2 separate regions of the Homo sapiens genome follow, and region 1 is linked to region 2. Evidence: fine-mapped QTL for protein levels in blood plasma. Region 2 holds a variant in brackets. A gene starts in the other region. All regions are shown on their reverse strands. Region 1 holds the start of FNDC1 (fibronectin type III domain containing 1). Region 2 holds the start of LOC124903567 (a long non-coding RNA gene).

The links. PIP is the chance, under the fine-mapping model, that this variant and not a neighbour inherited with it causes the effect. Protein levels are from antibody-based Olink assays in UK Biobank. Linkage for the fine-mapping came from a reference panel and not from the study's own genotypes, which makes the PIPs less certain.
Region 1: FNDC1 starts here. The variant in region 2 is fine-mapped to the plasma level of the FNDC1 protein (UK Biobank, PIP 0.95).

The regions. Positions count from the first base shown.
Region 1 is chr6:159,161,149-159,172,539 of GRCh38, reverse strand. It overlaps FNDC1 (fibronectin type III domain containing 1), which reads right to left and starts at 3,140. Exons shown (of 23, transcript NM_032532.3): 1 at 2,835-3,140. The coding sequence starts at 2,943. FNDC1-AS1 (FNDC1 antisense RNA 1) reads left to right here and starts at 2,533. Exons shown (of 4, transcript NR_121668.1): 1 at 2,533-2,728; 2 at 3,779-4,007; 3 at 5,186-5,291; 4 at 6,352-6,641. RefSeq lists an enhancer at 1,786-2,285 and a silencer at 3,092-3,261.
Region 2 is chr15:101,522,240-101,534,136 of GRCh38, reverse strand. It overlaps LOC124903567 (a long non-coding RNA gene), which reads left to right and starts at 5,763. Exons shown (of 2, transcript XR_007064784.1): 1 at 5,763-5,820; 2 at 6,277-7,372. RefSeq lists an enhancer at 3,160-3,818. The variant C/T (reference allele first, on the strand shown) is at 5,682.

The DNA.
Region 1 (11,391 bases), not on the chromosome of region 2:
ATTTATATCACCATTGATCTCACTAGAAAAAAATTTAAATATTGGGAAACTTTCAAGCTTACAGTGGTGGAAACAACTTGGCAAAATTCTGATTTTCACTTGAAAGCTGAAATGTTATCATTGGCAAGCAATAATAGCAGTTATTTTACTAGAAGTAGCAAGTTCCCTTTGTTCATTTTTGAGAAAACATCGGCCAAATACCCAAGTCAGAATAGCTCTAGTTTGTCTGTTGTCATTCTTTGTGGTAAATACCACATTCCATTTTAAAAAACCAGCTAGCTTAATGCATAACACAAACAATCACACCAGTGCTTCCCCCTGGGGTTGCCACTGAACTTGGTCATCAGCAGTAGTAACTTATGTGTCCTTCCCATTTATTTACACTATTAAAAAGACATACACTCAAAGATACAAAGATTTGGTAAAATTAATAATTTTACTGTGGCATCAAGAACATTCTTAATGAAACTGGCAAATTTTTTTTAACTGCAAAGTCCCCCCAAAATTCAAAGACTACTAGTGCATGGTGATGTCCCTGCCTTGATTCTCAGTAAGACACCCGCAGTTTACCCATCAAGCTTTTGCACCCTCAGTGCAAATGTCAACTGTGAAAAAGGAAAATAGCATCTTAGTAATCTTAGTATTACTTTGAAAATAGTTTTGACATGGAAAATTCCCTAAAAGCTTCTTTAAAGAAGAAAATAAAAATCATCCCTAACCATCCTAAGATACCCACTGCAAATATGTGCATGTGTGAGTACATCCACATGTGTTTAGAAAAATGTATCATACCAGACTGGCAAGGCCATCATAATTTTAATGTTTGCATAGTATCCTATTGTAGGGATGAATATGAGTGGAGGAGGGGACACTGCTTGCTTATTTTGTTTTATGTTTAATTGACCCTACACTGAAGGGCTTATCCAGATCTTCAGTGTGTCCTGCTTTAAGCAAAGTCCCTCGGAGCCACTATTATGTGGCCGTGGGTAATTTCCTTACAGAGATTCTGGCCCCAAAAGGGTGGTGAAGGGGAGAGCTTGACACAAGCAGCTCGCTTGGTCCATGCATTAGTTCAACCAGAGAGAGGGAGCAGTCTATCCATGACGTTGCTGTCAAAGGGAGCCCATGAAAGAAGTTATGTACCCCATAATTTCATCCACAGCATGGGGAGCTATCTACAGGTTGCTATGTCTGTTTCTATCCTTCTATTACTTAATTTAAATTTAGTAGATTTCATTCTGAAATGTGCCTGTCCTCCTTTGTCCACCTCTAGTCTGGTCATCATTTGACTGTAGATCCCACGTCAACACAGTAGAGAGAAGGGCTGGGAAGCTGTCCAGCCCCAGCATTCCTCAGCACAGTGATTCACAGAGCAGAAGGCGAAAAAGCAAGAGTGCAGATCGCGGTGGGATTCCAGGAGCTCTCACAAACAACCCCGCTCGGACCCACTCACATGCAACCCACGGGCAGGTGGCAGAGGAATCGGAAAAGCAGAAGGCTGGAATCGCCACAAAGCCAGGGCAGCACTGGTTCCAGTTTCAGATCATTTTCAGAAACAAAAACTCTTCCAGCACTCTGAAAATTTTCACTTAGAAAAACAAAAGCCAGGAGTTGTAGGTGGGGAAGTTGGAAGACTTTATTTAGTTTTATTCCTCTCAAGTACTGTGCAAAGTATTCAGTGAATACTTTCCTAGAGTTCACTAATGGGAAGAAAAAGACCCTACGGCAGGCACTGCCTTTTATGAGAAAGTGGCATTGGCATCAGAATACCTCGCATAAACCTGAGCCAAGCATTGGGATGATGTATCTACCAAAAAGTCACAAAGTAATGTGATCCCCAACTTTTCTTCCTTTACCCCTGAAGTAAGAGAACAATATATACACTAAATAGCATCATAAAACTGGTACCCTCGTTGGAATAGTATCTGACGATCATTGTCTGCTTCTTGGATTTCTACAAACCAATAACCTAAAAGCCAGTTTCAAGTGTAAAAATGCCTGCAAAGGAGGTGGTAACAAGGGCCGCCAAAGGCTTAGGAATGAAAACCTCGCCACAAACTTGTCTCTCTCTGCAGGAAGCTTGCAAGAAATCTGACAGGAGCGCGCTAGCATTTTCTGAAAAGCATTGCTCTCAAAGGAAGCATCCATCCTGGCTGCAGCCTCAGCCATTGGGGAAGGGCGAGTTTCTCTGGAATCAGCTTTCTCATTTCCCTCTCCCTCCTCTCAAGACAAACATTTTCTCCCAGCTTGAACGTTCCCCCCGGGCGCGCGGGCCTCCTGCCGCCTGGAGCCGAGCTGGCACTGGAGCGCTTCTCCTCTGGAGCGCAGAGGCACCCGACGCCCTGCGGCAGCTCGCAGCCTTTCCCCCACGACCTTCTAGAACAGCCCTGCTCTGCCTCCCTCCGGTCTCCCGAGTGCGCCCGTCATCCTGCCTCGCGAGAGGTGAACGCGGAGAAAGTAGGATGACCACCTACGCTCCCGAGAAATTCTGGGCAAAGAAAGGCATTACCCCAGTCCGCACGCTGAAAGTCGCCTTTCTTTTCCTTTTTTCCCCGCTGTGCCTGAATCTCCCGGGACACTTAGACGGCTGGAGCCTCCCGACTCCAAGGCGGGCGACGGCAAAGTTAAACGCCAGCGCGCTGCGGTCCCCGGGCACCGAGGCGTCCCCGCTCCCGCCACCCACACAGGGCGCCAAGTGCCCCGACCCGCGAGTGACGAGGACGCACAGGCTAGTGACACGACCCGTAGCCAGCACTGAGCGGGACGACGGGGCCCGAGCGCAGGAGGGTGCGCGGGGAGCTGAGGAGCGCCGGGGGCCCGGGCGCGGCGCGTACCTGAGGCCGCCGCCGAGGAGGCGACGGGGAGCAGCGCGGCCAAGAGCAGCAGCGCCGCCCAGGACAGCCGGCGCGGCGCGCGCAGGGTCGCCCCGGCCTCGGGGGCCATCGAGAGCCCGGGGTGGGCCGGGGCTGGGTGCTTGCGGCTGGCAGGGGGGCGCTGGCCGGAGTCTGGGGAGTGCCGAGGCGCCGCCGTCGGGTCCCCGCCGCCGTCCGTCTGTTCTGCGCGCTCTGCGCGGTGCCCGCCGCGCCCCTGCCCCGCGGCGATCGCTCCCGGCCGCACACCGGCAGCCGCGCTCCGCCACTGAGGCCGCCGACCTCCCGCCGAGCCTTTTAGCTGCGCTCGGGCGCCCCCTGCCGGTGTGCGGGGCCGGGGCCAGGGCCGGCGGGGGCGACCCGGGCGACAGGGGCGACGGGGGCGGCGGGGCCCGGGCTGGAGGCGGGCGGGGCGCGGGACGAAGGGGCCGGAGCGCCCCGGACTGACTTAGCGGTTCTGAACTTGGGGCGGTCGCTGTGCCGGGCCAAGTGGCTGAGGAAGTTCCTCCCCTCGTCTAACCCTCTCATTTTCTGGCTGGGGAAGTCGCCCATCGCGCCGAGGAGTGCCCTTTGTCCCCTTACAGAAACACCTCTGCGCCCCAAGTGGGGACTCGGGCCGGGACCCCTCACCCGGTCCGCAGCGCTGTAGTTCCTGTGGCTAGCCCAGTCCTTCCACGTCCCTACCCGCACCCGGCGCGCCCACGTCAGGGGTTTTCAGCGTCCTTAGACCCTGCTCCGTCTGGCTGTCATTTCTAGGGCGCGCACGATGCGGGTCGAAAAGGAACCCAGTTTTCAGTGTGCCTTGTTGCCCAGGCCAAGGACTCAGCGGACCTCGCCTCTCCCTTTTCTGTAATTGTAACACTGCCCCAGGTCTCCCTATTCCTCCTTCTCCCTATTCCTCCTTCCAGCCTGGAAGCCTCGCGGCCCTCCAGATGGACTCGGAGCGCCCCTGGAGGCTACAGTGACCTAAGCTCTAGGAAGGCCGGGTCCTGGACGCCGCGTGCTGCTGTCCGCCGCCGACCGGTGTCCTCGCAGAGATAACCTGGCTGAACTCACCGCCCAGCGCTATGTCAGTTCTCCCTCATGACAACCCAAAACTTGACCGGATTTGTGTTCTGCAGAGAGGAAAAAAAAAAGGTAAATGAATTGCAAAGAGATGAAAACCAGAAATACAGTATCTCTTTGAATTTGAGCACCCAGGAAAGGTGTAAACCTACCGCCTTCCTTTCCAGGAAACTCTCCTGCTTCCCAGCAAAGGTTTTTGTTTGTTTGTTTTTCTTTTTCTTTTTGTTTTGAGACAGGGTCTCCCTCTGCCTCTGCCGCCCAGGCTGGAGTGCAGTGGTGCAGTCTTGGCTCACTGCAACCACCATATCCCAGGCTCAAGCCATTCTCCTGCCTCAGCCTCCTAAGTGGCTGGGACTACAGGTTTCAGCCACCATGCCCAGCTCATTTTTGTATGTTTTGTAGAGACAGGGTTTCCCCACGTTGCCCAGGCTGGTCTCCAACTCCTGAGCTCAAGCAATCCGCCCACCTTGGCCTCCCAAAGTGCTGGGATTACAGGCGTGAGCCACCACGCCCAGCCCAAACACACTTTCCTGCATTACTCCCTTATGTTATCATGTTTCCCCACATGCCATTTAATGGAGCTGTGTGGTTTCTGTCTCACCAGCAGCCACCCGGCTCTGCCTATTTTGGGGGAATGGTAGCTCCCTCCCCAACTCCAACCAAGTGACAGGCCCCCTCCTTACTCCCACTCCTTCCCAAAGCCCCACTTCCCCACTGGCTCAGGGCTCTGCAGTGGCCTAGACAGGGTCACTCAGAGTTGGGACTCTTCTAACACGGGCTGGTGGAAAGGTCTCTTTCTCCCATCATTCGTGGATTTGGAAGGATGGTAGCCATGGCAGGCTGAAACACAGCCTTCCTCCCCAAAAAGACATTCCTGTCCTAGTCCCTGACCCTGTGAATGTCACCTTACATGGTTTATTAAAAAGCAATTAAGCATGCTGAGACAGAGAGATTATCGTGGATTATCTGGGTGGGCCCTAATGCAGTCATGTATGTAACTTATAAAACAGAGGAGAGGGAGATTGACGCACACAAGAGAAATCCAGGTGAGGACGGAGGCAGCCATGGGAACGATGCACCCACAGCCCAGGGATGCTGGCAGCCCTCACCAGAGGCTGGAAGAGGCTCCTCCAGAGCCTGTGCTGGACTTCAGGCCAGTGGAACTGATTTCAGACTTCTGGCCTCCAAGACTGAGAGAGCAGATTTCTGTTGTTTAAGCCACCCACCCCGTTTGTAATTACTTCTTACAGCGGCCACCGAACACCAGTGCAGTAGCCAGGATGGGCCTGTGGCTCTGGCTGCAGCCTCCAGGGACACCAGCTGGAGAGAAGGAAGCCACGCATGGAGAGCGGCCAGGTGGGTAGAAAAGAGCCGGGCAGATGCAAGAGTCCCGGGCTCCACCTCACCCCTGCGCTTTCTGAACGCTGGTTCTGGGGACAGCACATTCCCTTTTGCTAACTTGGAATGAGATTTCTATTTTCTATAACCAATGAGTCTTGACTAGTGCACTCCCCCCTGTTCTTAAGAGGACAAGAACCAAGACTTATCTTTATTGCTCATCTGTCACCCAAAAGAGGCCATCACAGAACCAAACACAGTAATATCCAGGAAATGCTGAGGTTAATTGCCATTCATTCATTCATTCAGCAAATACTTATTGTGATCTACTCTGTCCCCAGCACTGCTGTAGACCCCGGGGATTAGCAGTGACTGAAAGCAGATGAATAGCAGGAGTTAAGTTAAAAGCAGAGAAGGGGAGGCAGCACTGAGGACTTTACAGGCTGCAGGAAGGGTTTAGGCTTTCAATCTGAGAGGTGAAGGGCAACACTGGAGAATTCTGATCAGAGGAGACACGGGTAAGCAGGCTCTTACAATCCCAGTGAGGCAAGACGGTGCTTGGACATGATGGACAGCAGTGGGGCACGAGAACCAGTGAGGTTCTGGATGCATCTTAAAGGTATGGTTTGGGAGATTTTCTGACTCATTGGATGTGGAGAAAAAGAGGATTTGCAATATACCGAGTCACACTATTCTCATGCTGCTGGTTAACTCTCCATTGTGACTTCTGTAATTTCAGGATGTCACTCTTTAGTTTCATTGTAATGAACTAATCATATGCCATAATCTCTATATGCACACAGTGAAAGCTCAACAGACATCAGTTTCCTTCCCTGCATCCTCAGGAGATGCATGTGCACTTACCTTCCTCCCCAGAATACTTATTAGAGCAACTTTCTTAGGGGTACATTTCAGAGTGAAGCACAATGCAAAATTACTTCCAATTTTAGAGTTTCAGAACCCTCAACCATGGGCTGTTTGATATTAAATGAAATTACTGACACTTATGAGTTCTGATTCTGATTTCATTACAAATATGAGAGTGTGTGTTTTAATCAAAAGGTATTATTACCTTTAGGCTCAAAATATCTTAAAGAAAATGGAACTCGGAGTCAGTCATCTGTTCTCAACGTGGTCATCTCAAAAATATGAGCACACGGAAGTTTTCTTCCTTCTTGTCAGTTTTGAGTCCAATATCAATACTGTTGTCCTGTGAAAGATTTTAAGATTTAAATGTTTTTTCATGTAATTTCCTGATGTCTTGATTGTTGCTTCTATTTTGTTCATCAAAACCAAACAGAGTGGAGGTTGCTCTGGGGCTGGATGGATGGCCAGTCATTAAAATCAATGCCTTATTAGTCTGCCTTAGTTCTGTGGTCTTTTCTGGCTTTACAGATCAGCTTGTGTTCATATACACTATTTCCTGTTCTAGTTATTTTTAAAATAACTATACATCCAAGGAGTTCAGCACTCCTCATACACATTGTCGTGGCATTCCTATGTGATAGGGTAAATTAAATTGCTATTCTCGTGTTTCATATGGATAAATGGGAAGCAAGTTCAAATGACCTTCCAGTACAGACTCAAGTAGAGCGTTGAAAGTGCGTGTCTCATATTATTCATCTGACATTTAATCTTGTTCAGTCTTCAATTTGGCTCATGTGGCTCTTTAATTCCTTTTTAAGCACCACATTTGAATATATCTGCATATTGTGATCGCCGCAGGACACTACACAATACCCATTACACAATAGTGATATTTTTAAAAGACTACATAGAAGGAGAACAAAAGAGAGTGTGCTCCTACAGCACTTGCTGTGATTGTGGGGAGCTCAATAAATCGGACACAGCAGATCTGGAGGAACACAACAGTCCCCAGGATTCTATGAACAGAGGGAAAAGGGAAAAGAAAATAGAAGCAGGCAAGTCGACACTGCCATCTCAGTTTCGCCTTGACCTGGGAGAAGGGTGATAGAAATAGCTTCTAGCTGGCAATAAAATAAAATAATAAAATAATGCTTTACTTCTTTTCTTGAACAGTACTCATTTCGTTCCGATTCTCACAACAACTTTAGGGGCACTATTCTGATTTTACAGGAGAAAATCAAGGCTCCAAGAAGGCGTGTGGCATGTGCTTGGCCCTTTAACTGGTGCGCCTGGGAGTCCAGTCTGAGCCTCTGACCCCAAGTACACATCTCTCTCCACCACACGTGACTCTCAGAAGGTCCTTCCCTCTCTCCCATTTTCATTAAAACTATGAGGATCAGGGGAGACAGGACAAATAAAAGTCTGTTTTGCACACGCCATGTCCCCGTGTCCACTGCAGATTTATCGGAGACACTTCCTTATCATCCAGATAGTGACCAATCCCTCTTAGCAAACAACTACATGAGACCTCAATGTTATATCACTCATGTTCTTAGAGTTTCAAAGATGCAGACAAGAAATGGTGCTTCTTAAAAAACACCCTGCCATGAATCTATCATTGCCCAAAACACACTTCCTCTGCACAGAAGTTCTAACATGTTTCCACTGCAAGGCAGTGCCAAGGCAATTCTCTTCTATTGTACAAATCTACTGGGAATTAGTGAAACATAAAGGATTAAGGTGTCAGACACCAGCCTCACATATGCATGGTTGGCATGATTAAATTAAAAAACTCACAGATTTGTGTTCTAAGTTTCTGTCCAATGGCCCAGGTCAATCCAGCCTACATTCCACACATGGAAGAAGATATTCCAATTCTGCCAACTACTGCTTGTCAATGGGGACAGGAGAAATCATTCATTCTTCTATTCCTTTATATATCCTTTGTTGAACACCTATTTTTGTTCCATGCCATGTAGTAGAATCTGGGGGTGCAAATGTGACTAAGACACAGACAGCCCATGCTTCGAAGCGCTCACAGTCAAATGCAACAGATAAACAAACAACTGAAAACAATCACAATCCAATGTGACAAGTGCTGTAATCTTCAGGCCATGGAGCTTAAAGGAATTTTCATGAATGTTGCGCAACACTTCCTTTACTTATTTTCCCACCAAGGAGATTTTTAACCCTATGTCTACTTCTCATAGGCAGACATAGGGGTATGTTCACTCTAATCACACTAATCCTGTGGAATTAAAAAGAGCACAGTTTGGGGAGGAGACATTAGTAAATCTGAGTGGAACAAGAGCTCAAAATGTAGTCTTCAAGTTGCAGTTGGCAGTTTGAAAAGCTGGCCCGGCATTATGCTAAGAAAACATATGTCTGGCCGCCTTCCCAGGCTGCATTTTTCTGATTCCCAGCGTCTTGTCAAGAGCAGACCACAACTGCTAGTCCATGAGCAGTGCAGAGCTGCCCACCCAAGCCCATGCTGGTGTGTACAGGGCATGCCACTCAAGCCCCCCATGCCTCAGATAGCATGAGGACAGATAGGCACTCACTCTGGAAATGGGGACATTCATCATTTGTTCAGTAGTCCCATAATGAACCCCACCTGTGTGCCTGGCCCATGATCAGAGCACAGACTGTGGTCACCTGTGAAATGGCATCTGCACCAGCTGACAGCTGACGGGGGCTTTGCCATCTGTGCAGTGTGACTGGCCTGGAGGAAGTGATGAAGTAGACAGTTCGCCGGTGGTGATCCCAGCCCCTTTCCCTCCTGGCTGATGTCTCCCTCTAAGGCACCTACCCAAGCACATCATGCCCTTTCATACTGCACCCTTCTCACCACCCATCAAGCCTTCCTTCAAGGATCCAATCACCTCCTTCTAACTAGCATGTAAATAAGTGACTGATAAGGCTTTATGATCTTTTCTCCATAAGGATGTAGTGCTCTGCAACTCACATAGTCACAACGTGTGCGCTCATTCATCCACATGAACCATCAGGGAGGGTGACACTTTATTATGCCCATTTTACAGAGGCAGAAACTTAGGTTCTTTGTCCAGCCAATGTTCATGCAGTTAAGGAATAACACAGCTAGGAGGCAAACCCTGATACTCCACCTGCAAACACAGTGCTCTTTGCACAATAGGCCATCAAAACAAGAATTCTCCAGTGTTGAATTCGTAAGTAATAAAATGTTGACAGGGAGGCATTTAGGATGAGGGCCTCTTTTATTTACAGTTCGATTTCCCTGACTTAAGAAAAAGCACCATCTTCTGCATCCACATTATAACTATTGCTCTCTGGCCACGCTTGAGAAGCAAAGTCGATTTTCCTTACATTCTTTAGAATCTGCACAAAAACATCTAGGAGAAAATATTCTGTGATTCTGTAGCATCCAAATCAATGTGCTTCCCTAACACAGCTCACAGATAGTACTGAATTGTTATTCATATGATGCTCCTGAAATGAAAAAGCAGGCTTGAGCTGTTTTATAGGTAGCTTCCACTCTGGGAGGGGACCTTACTCTCTGTCTAGATTCAATCATGATTTTGTGAGCCCTCAGCGCATTCAGCCTACAGGCCTCTTCCTTGTTCTGGAAGCATCTTTCCCTGACTTCTGACACTGGAGCTTGTCCTGACCTGTCTTCTGCTTCTCCTACCTTTGTTCCTCCATCTCCTCTGCAGTGCTGAGGCCTTTTCAAGTCTCCTTCCCCCTTCTCCATAGAAGATCCCATCCACGGTCACTCCAGTCACGCTGCCCTTTCAGTCTTGCGGTCACCTTGCTGCCTCTTCACAGGGTTTTTGCACCAACTGATCCCATCCCCCGTCCCTTTCTGCCTTTCCACCTATCCTTCAAAGCTCAGCTTTTATTAGAGTTTCCCTGGAACCCTTTGACCAGGTAAAATCTCCCCTTTCTACTCACTCACAGCACCATAGAACTTGCTTTTGTGGTCCTTCCCGTGGCTGAATTTTCATGCTTATCTCCATAGCTACTCATCCATCACCCAGCTTGACTGTAAGCTCCATGAGGACAGGGATCACATCTGTTTTTGCTCGCCTTGTATCGCTATAGCCTGGCATGCGACCTGAATCATAGCAGGAACTCAGTAAACATTTGTGAGTTCATGTGTACAAGCATGCATACATGAAGGATCTTCTTTATTCAGTAGTACAAGCTTGGTAGAATTGGTGATATGGTTTGGCTTTGTGCCCCACTCAAATCTCATATTGAAATGTAATCCCTTGCGTTGGAGGTGGGGCCTGGTAGGAGGTGATTGGATCATTGGGGTGGTGTCTAATGATTCAGCACCATCCCCTAGGGCTGTCTCATGGTAGAGTTCTCGTGAGATCTGGTTGTTTAAAAGTGTGTAGCACCCCACTTCCCACCCTTCACTCTCTTCCTCCTGCTCCTGCTATGTAAATGTGCTTGTTTCTCCTTTGCCTTCCACTATGACTGTACGTTTCCTAAGGCCTCCCCAGCCATGCTTTCTGTACAGCCTGTGGAACTGTGAGTCAATTAAACCTCTTTTCTTTATAAAGTACCCAGTTTCAGGTATTTCTTTATAACAGTGCAAAAAAGGACTAATACAATTGCCCTCTCCAAGAAGTCAGTGTAAGCTTGGACTTATTCCCTGCTGCAGCCCACTCCTACCCAGACCCTGGCTGTACCCAGCATGCATAAGCAGCAACTCCGCAGACAGATGTCCTCAGGCTGAGAGACACTCTGGCAAACACAGTTTAAAAATGTTAAATTTCTCATTCTGGGCTACTGGTAGTGAGACTAGCAATTTGTAAAAGGATATTTATGTATTGTCTCTAAGGTGAAGGAGGATAAATGCAAGTAATTTTGTAGCAAATTCAAATTTTTTTATTAATTAGTGATGCTTGCCCTGTTTGTTGTTTCTTTCATTCATTCAACAGTTAGACACTGAATGCCTTGCAATTTGCCAACATCATAACTTCTCTAATCAGATTGTGCAGCTGGTTGGGCAAATGCAGTATTAACCATCGCTCCCAGGAAAAACTCTCTAAACTCATATAATGTCATCAATCACCTTGGCCAACAGGTCATATTAGAAAGGCACCAACTGAGGGAGACTTCTCAGGCCATCTCCTTCTCTTCTAGTTCATGCTTGAACAATTACCCAAGTATGTGACAGGTTTTTTTGTTTTCAGAAAATTTGTGTTCTGTTTACTCCAAAACGTAGTGACTAAAAACAATAATTGTACATTATCTTTCTCAG
Region 2 (11,897 bases):
GGTTGCATATCAAGTAATTTATTTAAATACAATTTTTCACAATATATTGATATATAATATATAAATAATTTACACAAATGTGCTTCATTTTTTACGTAGGTTCCAGTCAAACCCTGTGTTTTGTGTTTTTTTTTCACTATTGACTGTGAAATTTGCTCTCCATTTAAGCAGACTCATGTTAGGGGACTTTACCCAGGTCCAGCTGTCCTTTGCCTGGCCAGGTAGGTGGGAACTGATGGAGGAAATTAGTTTTCAGAAGAGGACAGAGCCGGGAATGAGGAGATGAAGAGGCCCAGTGTAGGGAAGGCCCTCCCAGGAGTGCTAAAGGTGGGCTCAATGGGGAGTCCTTGCTTCCTTCCTTCTTTCCTTCCTTCCACCAACATTTGGATGAAGAGAAAATACAGGTAGTCCACAGGGGTCCCGTCAGCATCCACCAAGGGCTTGAAATCGGGTCAGACTCCGTGGAGGTACCGGAAGAGCCACGGGCTTCAGTGAGAGCATGGGCTGCACCCCTGCCCGGCTCGACCCTGGAGACACCTTGGGGAGAGGGAGCATGAAACCACAGAGCCCCGGGGAAGCCTGAGGCCACTGGGACCCGTGAGGGGTGTGGGTGGGAGCAGCCCCAGGGCCAGGGCAGGGAGCAGTGGTGGGGAGAGCTTGGAAGTCCTGCTCCTGTGTCCACCCCACTTTATTCCATTCCTCTGGGATAGCAGCAATCCCAGCCCAGCCGCCTTGTGTTGGTGAGGGTCCAGTCCCAGGCGTGCATGGGTAGAGGCTGGGTACATTCCTATCAGCCTTCCTCGGGCACCCCTCCTGGCTGCCCCCTCTGCTCCCCAGGGCTGGTGGGCTCTGCAACCTGAAAAACCCACCTCTTCTCAGGGCCACCTACAACTGTGAGTTAGGGAAAGTGCTGGCAACAGAAGCAACCTCATGGTCTCAGGGCTCATCTCCCATCTCATAACCCCCTTCATGGGGGCCACAGACACCCCGGGCCTGAGCTTCAGCACCTTCCCCATTACCTGTCCCCAGGAGGACATGCACCTAAGATCAAGGCAAATGCAGGCCCCGGGGCACTTCTCTCTCCCAGGGAGAAAACACACTGAGCCACAGTCACCCATCGGAATCTATACTAAGTGTCATAGGTATTCTCAGCTAAGGGGCAGTATTAATAATGGAAAGCAGACAGAGGAACCGTAACAGAGCCAAATGGAAGCAAGAAGGGTGGGAAACATAAAATGCGGAAACACAGATAATGATAAACGAGACCTGCACACTGAGGCTTGCGGCAGGAGCGTCCCAGGCTGGGGGCCTGTGTCACGGGTAAGAGGGGAAGTCAGGTGCAGAGGACCCCCGGGACGCCAGGTCCCCATTAGAAGCAACGGCCCAGATGTGCACAGAGGCAGGAAACTACTATGAGGTTCTGGTGCTGAGTGAACATAGAAACCCATCGAGGCCAAGAGTGAAATAGTCCTTATGTAGGTCAAGAGTACCAAACAGTACTGAGTGACAAGGAATAAGTGGATAAGCAAAACGTGGTCTACGCAGGCAAGGGAAGATGACTCAGCCTCGAAAAGGAAGGAGATTCTGACAGGTGCTACAACAGGGACAGACCTTGAGGACCTTATGCTGAGTGAAATAAGCCAGGCACAAAAGGACAAATACTCTGTGATTCCACGTATGTGAGGTGCCTGGAGTTGTCAAAATTATTGGGACAGAAAGTAGAATGGTGGGGGCCGGGCACGGTGGCTCACCCCTGTAATCCCAGCACTTCGGGAGGCCAAGGCCGGGGGATCACCTGAGGTCAGGAGTTCGAGACCAGCCTGACCAACATGGTGAAACCCCGTCTCTACTAAAAAGAATACAAAAATTAGCTGGGCCTGGGGGTGGGTGCCTGTAATCCCAGCTACTTGGGAGGCTGAGGCAGGAGAATTGCTTGAAGCTAGGAGGTGGAGGTTGCAGTGAGCTGAGACCGCACCATTGCACTCCAGCCTGGGCAACAAGAGCGAAACTCCGTCTCAAAAAAAAGGAAAGAAAGAAAGAGAAAGGAAGGAAGGAAGGGAAGGGAAGGGAAGGGAAGGGAAGGAAGGAAGGAAGGAAGGGAGGAAGGGAGGGAGGGCGAAAGAAAAAGAAAGAAAGAAAGAGAAAGAGAAAGAAAGAAGGAAAGAAAAAGAAAGGAAGGAAGATGGCTTTCAGGGGTTGAGCAGAGGTGGGATGAGGAGTTAGTGTTTAATGGCAACAAAGTTTCAGACTGAGAAGATGAAAAAGCTCTGAAGGTGGATAGCAGTGACGGTTGTACAACAGTGTGAATATACTTAATGCCACTGAACTGTACATATGAAAATATTTAAAATGGTAAATTTTATGTTACATATATTTTACCACAATAAAAATAAAATTAAAAAGGTTCAATCTAGTAAAGAAATAATTTTAGAAACCAAAATAGAATAGTGTGTCTTATACTGGGACACAAGCAAATAAAAGGACACACATTAAAATACTAGAACGCTGAGGGGGGAACGGGCACAAAAGAAAATTAAACTGGCGAAGGGGCCACGGGTCGCAGCATGTGGCAGGCAGTGCTCTCTGCCCACAGCCAGAATGCGGGATCAGGAGTGAGCAGCAAGCAGTGGGGTGACAGATGATCTCAGGGTAGCCCCCCAAGGCTGCAGGAGAGTCACCACCCCACAGCCTAGCCGGTGCCCCAGCACGCCCAACAGCCCTTCCAAACCCCCGGCTCCCAAGAATGCCCTGACAGCCGTCTGGGCTTCCCCTTCCCCTGTGTGGCCTCGTGGAGTAGAGTCCAAATCCCAGCTGCCCTGGACACGCGTCCCAGGCTGGCTGGCCCGTGGCCCATCGACACTGGGCTCATGCACACGGTAGGTGCTCTGAGAGGTTCTGTTGAGTGAGAATAAGTGACGGGAATTGAGAATGGGGAGACCTCTCCTAGCCGGGAGAAATGACACAATGCCGCTTTAGGGAAGCCCAGTGGATGATCCTTCAGATCCCCGGGGGGATAAACCTCACTTCCGATCTCAGGAGCATAGAAGTGGCCCTTTCTCTATTTTCAGTAACTGAACTCAGTTTTAATTTTAAGCGTCAATACCATCAGGTAACAAGGATTTAATCTCCACCTGGGCAGGGGCTCAGGCTTGCAGGCCAACCGGACCCTCTCTAAGCCGCCTTCTTCTCTGACCAATTCTCTGTGGCACGAGGCTCAGCCGGGGACACAGTGGCCCTGCAGTAACTGCGAGTATGCCTAGTCACCTGGCCAAGCATGAGGACCACTGCCGCAGGGAGCAGAGCAGGCCCTGCTGTGGCCTTCAGGACAGGAAAGGTGGAAAAGCCGTTTGTATACTGTGGCTAAACCCTGAGTGCGCGATACCCCTTCCAGGCTTGTAATCCACATTCCAGCCCACGGTGATTGACAGCTGGCACACAGCAGCACCCAGGGCGCCACCCGCCCTCCATGAGTGTGCTGCTGGTTTAATTGATGTGTGCAATTTTGGGGACCACTGAGTCCATCAGAATGCCAAGGAGGAAGGGGGTGGGAGGGACGGCAGGGCAGGGTGTGCCTTGCATGGGCAAAGAGGTCAGAAGTGAGCATTACATCAAGCAGGCCCGCGGCAGCTTTGAAGAGCACCGTCAGGGCAGGAGACAGTCCTCAAGCAGCAGCACAGGGCAGACCCTGACTGTGCGCACCAGGCTTCCCGCCTGCAAAGCACTTCTGGTTAATCATCAGAAAGGGAATATTGTAAAAGGGTATCAAGTGGCTCACAGACAACTCCCTGCTGAGTCACTGTGGGGAAGGGTCAGGAACCTGGAGGTGCCAAGTGGCCACAGCTATAGCCCCAAGACATGTGGCTAGGACACTGCTGGTGCTGAGCATGCACTAGCCACTGCTCTTCGCACCCAGGACACTGGGGCACTGCTCTGCCACCTGGGAATGGGGGGACGGACCCTGAAGTCTCCGTGCCTCCTGGGCATGTGGCTGCACAGCCCTGCTACCCCCCACCGGTGTCAGGGAGTGCACGTTCTTGGCCTTTTAGGCTTCTGTAGAGGGAAGCAGGGTTTTGCCTCCCACTAAGACGGTTCACTTCTCAAATGTTAAAAGGCTGTCCTGATGCTGCATAACCACAAAATAAAAAGCATCCAGAAGGCCAGGCGTGGTGGCTCACGCCCGTAATCCCAGCACTTCGGGAGGCCGAGGCGGGTGGATCACTTGAGGTCAGGAGTTCGTGACCAGCCTCGCCAACATAGTGAAACCCCATCTCCACTAAACATACAAAAATTAACCAGGCGTGGTGGCTAATGCCTGTAATCCCAGCTACTTGGGAGGCTGAAGCGGGAGACTCACTTGAACCTGGGAGGCAGGGGTTGCAGTGAGCCGAGATCACGCCACTGCACTCCAGCCTGGGTGGCAGAGCAAGACTCCATCTCAAAAAAAGCATCCACAAGAATGACCAAGTGACTGCTCAATGGCCATGGATGTTTCTGGACCCTGAGGGCCCCTGTTTTGCTGAGATGGAAATCATTGCTGACTCCTTTAATGTTGTTTAATTTTTTAAAAACCTCTTCAAGCATTCCTCTAGATTTCTGGTATTCAGAACTATGCTGTGAACACAGAAAGATTAAGGACTGTTCTTCTAATGCCTTAGACAGCCTGTGCCAATTGGTCTCAGAGTAGAGAAAAATATATTTATGCTGTGAAACCTAAATACCCAAACTAAATTCATTTTAGCAAAGATTAATACGCAGAGCCCCAATTCTTGTACAGATTCCTCAGAGCAGCACGTGCTGTTCGGCGCTTCTTCCTTTATAATAAATGGTCAGGTGTGCAAACAACTGTTTGAAGAGCCATTAGGAGTCAGTCAGCTGTGGTGTGGGCAGAGTGGGCAGTGGTATGCCAGGAAGCGCCCAGGGTTGCAGGTCTAGGGCATTGTGGAGACAGCAGCAGCATTCCTTGGTCCTGAGCTGGGATTCCGCATCCAGTTGGGCCCAAGCGTGATCTGTGTGTAGTTCCATGAGGCCTGGGTGGAGGGTGTTGGGAGTGATAGAATGTTTGGAAGGAAGTACAGGGGAGTGAGGCCTGATTCACCCAGGCTATGGGGCTGTGTGAAAATGGCCAGGCTCTTGAATGTTTGGCACATAGAGGAGAAAACTGTCATGAACAAGACTCATAGCCCCTGAAAATAGGCAGCTTGTCTTCTCTGCAAGACGGCCTGGCTGGTGTCCCTGCAAGCCCAAGTGTGAGCTGGGGGATTCGCAGGCAGGCTGGTGACACTTTCCATCAGTGGGAACCCCTCTACTTTCGAGCACCTGCCCCCGACTTCATGCAGGGAGTGCACGAGGAGTCTGCCTGGGACTGTGGATGGGCCTGAAGGACAGCCCAGCCTGGGACTGTGGGACGCAGCTGTCCAGCGAGGTGCTGGCTGGCCGGCCAGCAGCCACCACCCAGGCCCAGCTGCAGGGCTGGGTTTCCTGCAAACCGTGATTCTGGAGCAGGGTAGGTGACCCCGAACTGCCTGTTTACAGTTTTCATGCACCCTGGGGACACCGTGAGCCTCCCCAGCCCTGTGGCCTTGAGCTGCTGTATTCTAGAAATACCGGCAGCTGCCTGTCCCCTGAAGCCTCCCCACAGCTTTGAGCAATGATGAATATTGGTTAATCTCTCCTGTAAACAG[C/T]TGTTTTCCCGGCAACTGCCCAGCTCGTGTTAAATATTAACAAAGAGCCGCCTCCACAGCCGCTCACAGGGTGTCTGCTTTAAATATTTAAGAAATTGCTGTTCCTGTCCCTGAGTGACTCTTTGGCTCAAACTGTTCTGTAAGTGTTCTTGCCTCCCTGGTGACTGCGTTGTGTGAAATGTCCGACATCCCTGCTTGCTTGCTCTTTCTTCACCCATTGCTCTCTTTGTCTCTGTCCTTCCCTGTCTCTATCACTGTCTCTCTGTCTCTCTCTCTCTTAGTGAATAGTACTAAAAAATGTAAACGCTGAGGGTTGCACTCAGTCCTGGGTGCTCAGCCAAGCTGCCTGGAGATGCCCCAGGCAGGCTCCTGCTCCATCGAGATGCTGCGGAAAGCAAGTGGCCTTTAAGTGTTGCTGCCTCACACGCTCATGGTTAGGTGTGAATAGCTGGGGCACCCCACCCCTCGCCCCCATCTGGGGGTGTGTCTGCACACGTGTACTCAGGTGCCCAGAGGGTTGTGGAAATGCCGTGACCGTGTGTAAATCCTTTACATCTAAGTCCTTCTCACTGTTGGCACTTCCCATTCCCTTCAGGGTTTGTGGAAGACACGCCTGTTTTCTTCCCTGGGCTAACTGTGAAGCTCAGAAGAGGAAGAAGGGCCCGGATGGCAGATGAACCGCACAGGGCTGTGTGGCCTCAGCCCCGCAGCTGGGGAGCTCAGTGGCCTCCTGGAGGAGAAGCTGACTTTGGAGGACCTGGAACACCATGGCTGCTGGGAGTTGGGGCTGTGCGGGAGGCTTCTGTCTCTGTGTGGCGTTTGGTCATAACCACTGGACTTTGGAACATCCTGCTTAAAACCACAACTTTGGCTGGGCACGGTGGCTCATGCCTGTAATCCCAGCACTTTGTGAGGCTGAGGTGGGCGGATCGCTTGTGCTCAGGAGTTCAAGGCCAGCCTGGGCAACATGGCAAAACCCTGTCTCTACTAAAAATACAAAAATTAGCTGGGCATGGTGGCTCACACCTTGGGTGGCTGAGGCAGGAGAATCACTTGAATCCAGGAGTTGGAGTCTGCAGTGAGCCAAGATCACTCAACTGCACTCCAGCCTGGGCGACAGACTGAGACCCTGTCTCAAAGAAACAAAACAAAACAAAACAACAGCAAAAACCCCCACAACTTTACCTAGACTCATCTGTGAAAACTTCAGTGAATCCGGCCTCAAACTGTCGCTATGGGGGAGCCACTGGCAGCTGAGTTTGTTTAGATTCCTCCTTCCTGGGTGAGACCTGGGGTTGGAAACACCATTGAAATTCCCTCTAGTAATGGGCTCTGTCGTCCAGAGGAAGGGGCAAGACTCCCCCACCCCCACTTCTCACCCCTTGCCCGGGGTCTCTTCTCCCTTCCTGACCAGGAGCCTAAGGAAGGCCTCAGGTAGAAATAGAGAAGCATCTTCCTCCCTCTGGGGCCAGAGATTTCCAGCCGAGTTTTGTGAGACTCCAAGACTGCTGTGCGTATCCTCAGAGCTGCTGAGATCACCTCAAAACAAAGCCCGTTTAAAGTCACTTTCATTTATTTCAAGAGCTACTGTGAACCTCTCAGGATAAAATGAAAATGAACTTCAATTCACTTTAATTTTTAAAAGATATGTTCGTTTAATATCCTTTTTAAAATAAAAACAGGGAAAAAGACGTAGTGGTTTCAAGTTTGCAATTCCCATCCGGCCCAGGTGAGGCCACAGGGCCACCTCCCGTGAGAAGAGCGTGGCCTCAGGAGGGCAGGTGGCACAGTGCATGAGCCTGCGGCGAGTCTCGGGCTCTGCCTAGGGTCGGGGGAGGGGCTCTCTGCATCTCACTCTCCCCAGTTCTAAACGGAGAAAGTAGTAGTACCTGCCTTAGGGTGTTGGTAGAGAACTGACTTAGATCTTGCCGGTAAAACTCAGGGCCTGCAGGCGTGACCTTACAGCAGGTGGGCTACAGGCACAGTCCTGGCTACAAGCCGGGCAGCTGTCTTGTCCCAGGAGACCAGGAAAGCCTCCAAGACACCATGGGCCTATTGGTAGGGGACAAGTGGGCTTCCCTGCCAGGTGGCCTGGTGACAGGGTCATTAGCAGTTGAAAATTTTGAGAAAATGATTCTGTGAGCTGGAGGGCAATTGGACGGGTGAGGATGGAGGAGAAAGCCAAAATCCGCAACTCGGATCACTGTCAGGGCGAGGCTGGGAGTGGGGGAGCGGGGGATCCCTCCCCAGAGGAGCACAGGCTGCAAGCTGGTGGCCTGGAGGCCTGGGGGAGAGGAGCGCAGCCAGGGCAGGACTGTTGCTGGAAGTCTGTGGAGGAAGCTGCCTTGTCAGTCAGCCTCCCGACCCCAGGCACACAGCGATTACAACCTCATGCCAAAAAACAAAAACAAAAACAAAAACAATGCTCTTTTGAAAAGAAATTGAACAAACTACCAGACTGGGCCCCATCCTTAAACCTCATTTAATTTTTTTTTTTTTTTTTTTTTTTGAGACGGAGTCTCACTCTGTCACCCAGGCTGCAGTGCAGTGGCGTGATCTTGGCTCACTGCAACCTCGGCCTCCTGGATTCAAGCGATTCTCCTGCCTTAGCCTCCCGAGTAGCTGGGATTACAAGCATGTGCCAGCATGACTGGCTAATTTTAGTATTTTTAGTAGAAACGGGGTTTCGCCATGTTGGCCAGGCTGGTCTCAGACCCCTGACCTCAGGTGATCCTTCTGCCTCGGCCTCATAAAGTGCTAGGATTACAGGCATGAGCCACCACATCCAGCCTCATTTAACTTTAATTACCTTTAAGGGCCTTGTCTCCAAATACAGTTGCATTGGGGGGCAGGGCTTTGACATAAAAATCTGGAAGGACGCAAACATTCATTCCATAGCACTCAGAGAGCAGCAGCTACAGGAGGTCACTGACCCCCTATAGAACTGGAGAATGAAATGGAAAGTGAAGCTACGAGAGCTCATGAGCACGATTGCCCCTCATCCAGAAACCAGGAGTTACCCTCTGGCCGCTGCTACGGAGCCTAAACATCAACAGCTCCGCCACTATTGTGACACCCACCACCAATCTGCAGATTGCAGTCACTCTCAGCTGCCAGCTGCTCCCGGAGCTGGAGAAGGGGACATGCTTTCTCCCATGATCCAGCCTTCCAGCCTCCAGTGCCTCTCATTGGCCGGAAACTTGCATCAGGAGAAGCTGGGAATATAGTTCATAGGCTTCCAGCCCTGGCAGTTACAAATGGGAGTATGGAGTGACAAGTTAGAAGCTATGTCCACAGATAAATAAACAGCACAGATTGCAAGACAGAGAAGCGCAATCAAGAGGCAGTTATTCTTCGTCCATGAGAAAAATGAAAGGTAAATCAAACATGGGGGGGATATCAAAAAGTTGTCTGTGAAAGCCACAGTCTAATCATGAAAAAACTAAAAATATGTTATGGTTTTCTGTTTTGAGACGGAGTCTCGCTCTGTCACCCAGGCTGGAGTGCAGTGGCATGATCTTGGCTCACTGCAACCTCCACCTCCCAGGTTCAAGCAATTCTCCTGCCTCAGCCTCCTGAGTAGCTGGAACTACAGGCACCTGCCACCACGCCCGGCTAATTTTTTGTGTTTTTAGTAGAGACGGGGTTTCACCGTGTTAGCCAGGATGGTCTCCATCTTCTGACCTCATGATCCGCCCGCCTCGGCCTCCCAAAGTGCTGGGATTACAGGCGTGAGCCACCGCGCCCGGCCACGTTATGGTTTTGAGCAAGAAGAAAGTTTATGAGAGACAGAATGCATTCAGCCTTGACGCTGAAGTCATTCTCTCCTGTGGCCCCGGGAAAGCCACCAACCACAGAGAAGGAAGCCACTTGGCTGCTATGAATGGTACTTACAAAGTTGTAAAAACGCGAATGCCGTTGACTTGTTTTCAACACAGATAAAACTTAACAAAGAACAGAAAACTTAATTATGCTCATCAAACAGAATATGATGCCATCCTTGGTGCTGCAAAAGAAAAACCCACGGGATGGAGGAAGAGAAGGGGAAGAGGGGAGGGGAGACGGAGGACAGGACAGGGCTTCAGAGGCCTCCACGGTGTGCTGAAGATTCAGCAGTCTCAGCTGGATGGAAAAGCAGTAAATGCCCAAGTCTATATTGACAGGTGCGAATCTAACGAATGTGAAAACTAACAATCGTGACTGAGAGGAGGTGGGGGAGGGTAAATGAGGGAAATTCTCATTTTTTAATAGTGCAGAATCAGTAGATACTGTTGAAGGATGACAAATGAAGAGGTGACGGAATAAGCATATTGACTAAAGTTATGATGGTGGATAGATTGATTTTTTTTTCTTTTGAGACGGAATCTCGTTCTCTGTTGCGCACAGTGGAGCTCTTAGAGGTGTTGACAGAGTCTAATCGCATCCCTTTGACCTGCGAAGCTCTGAGGAGGGAGGGTTCCAACAGCCACCTGTGACCAGAGTCCCTGTCTCAGCACCCTGCAGGGCAGGTGACCTTATGGCCAATGAGACACAGGGAACATTGGCTGTTCCCTCCCTGATGAGCAGGGAGGAGCAGTTTGAGGCCATGATGCACAGAACGAGGTGGCTGTGTTGTGACTGCCAGGGAGGGAGGAGCCACCAGCAGCTGATGGGACAGAGGAGAAGGATAAAGGAGAGGCTCTGGTGACAGTACTGGGCACTGTGCATGGCGGGGGACTGCCTGCCTCCCAAGTTCTTGTTGTGTTGACAGAGATGACAAAATGTCATCATTGTTTCAGCCGCAGCTCACTGGGTGCTTGGCAGCCCACTCCCCCAGCGGGCCCAGGAGCCTGGCGGTACCGTGGCTCCTCCTAGTGCAGGCGCTCGGCTCAGTCTTCCTCATGGAAAGGCTCCAGCGGGCCCCGGTCTCACAGGGTGGCCCAGCTGGCTGTCAGGCTTGCTCCTGGGGACACCTCAGGCAAGACAGGAGAGGTGCTCTGTGCCCTCAAGCTTTCATTCATGCACTGGTTCTGTCGGCGAATGTGTTGACACGTGCCACACCAAAGCTGTGTGGTGTGGACCTCATTACCTGTCATCTTTCTAACTTGACTGCAAACTTCATGTGGGGAGGACAGTGGCCTGTGTGACCCAGATCCTCAGTGGCCAGCCCTGGGAACGGCTCATCATCTAGGGGAGGAAACAGACTCTCATCAGATCCAAGCCCAGCTCCTAGGGGTGGTGATGCTGCTATCTAAGCAGGACCCTCTCACACACCCCCACCCCACCCAGCTGCATGGCTGAGCCCTGTGGCTGGTGGCACTTCACACACATCATTCTATGGCTGCCACTGGTATTTAGTGTCCCCTCGTCCTGCCTGGCCCCTCCAACAGGGTCTCCTTTCTTCCAGGGCCCTGACATCTCGTGGAGACACTGCCTCCCACATCTCTCCATGTGAGCAGTTTCCCCAGCCCTGCCTTGCTCCTCTCTCTGCTCTGCTGCAGTGCCTTCTCCTAATACCACGGGAATGCTGAAAGAGGTCTCTGGGGAAGCAGCGCCTTGTCACCTGCAGGCCCAGCAGCCGCAACTCAAACACACTGGCACAAAGTTGCACTTCATTTACTCCACTTGATTTCTGGGATTCCAATTCCAGTCCGGGAAGACGTGTAAACAAGGATGTTCAGATGGTGGTTGCCCTGGAGGGTGGGCGTGGGGGCAGGTGTTGATGGCAGTGGGGCACAGGGACGCCTCCTGGGAGCTGCTGATGTCTTCTGTCTTGGTCTGGGTGCGATTTACAGGGGTGGGCTCGGTTTGTCAAAATTCGTCGAACTGTACTCATATGATGCTGTATGTAATATGTCAATAGATGGAAAGGTTTCTGTGTGTGTGTGTGGTTTTTAAATTTTTGATTTAAAAATAAGGAACACTCAGAGTAGCATTTCACGTTAGTGAACAAAGGTAGCACAAGGCAGTGCTTCCCTGCAAGTTGAGTCCTTGCCCCTTTTCACAGGGGCCCTGCCTCTGTCTGTGCCCTGGCTGGGGTTCCCACTCCGTGGCGGTAGCTACAGGGAACCTGTGGGCACCCGTCTGTCTTTGCTGTCGTCCTTGCTTTTCTTCCCCTGGCCGCCTGCTGGGATTGTCGCTGGATCTGAAATTGGCCTGTTTACTGCTCTGGAGTTTCCGTGTTGATCATTCTGTGGGGTGGTTGCTGCAGGCCTGGGGCCGTTGGGCGTGGGTTTC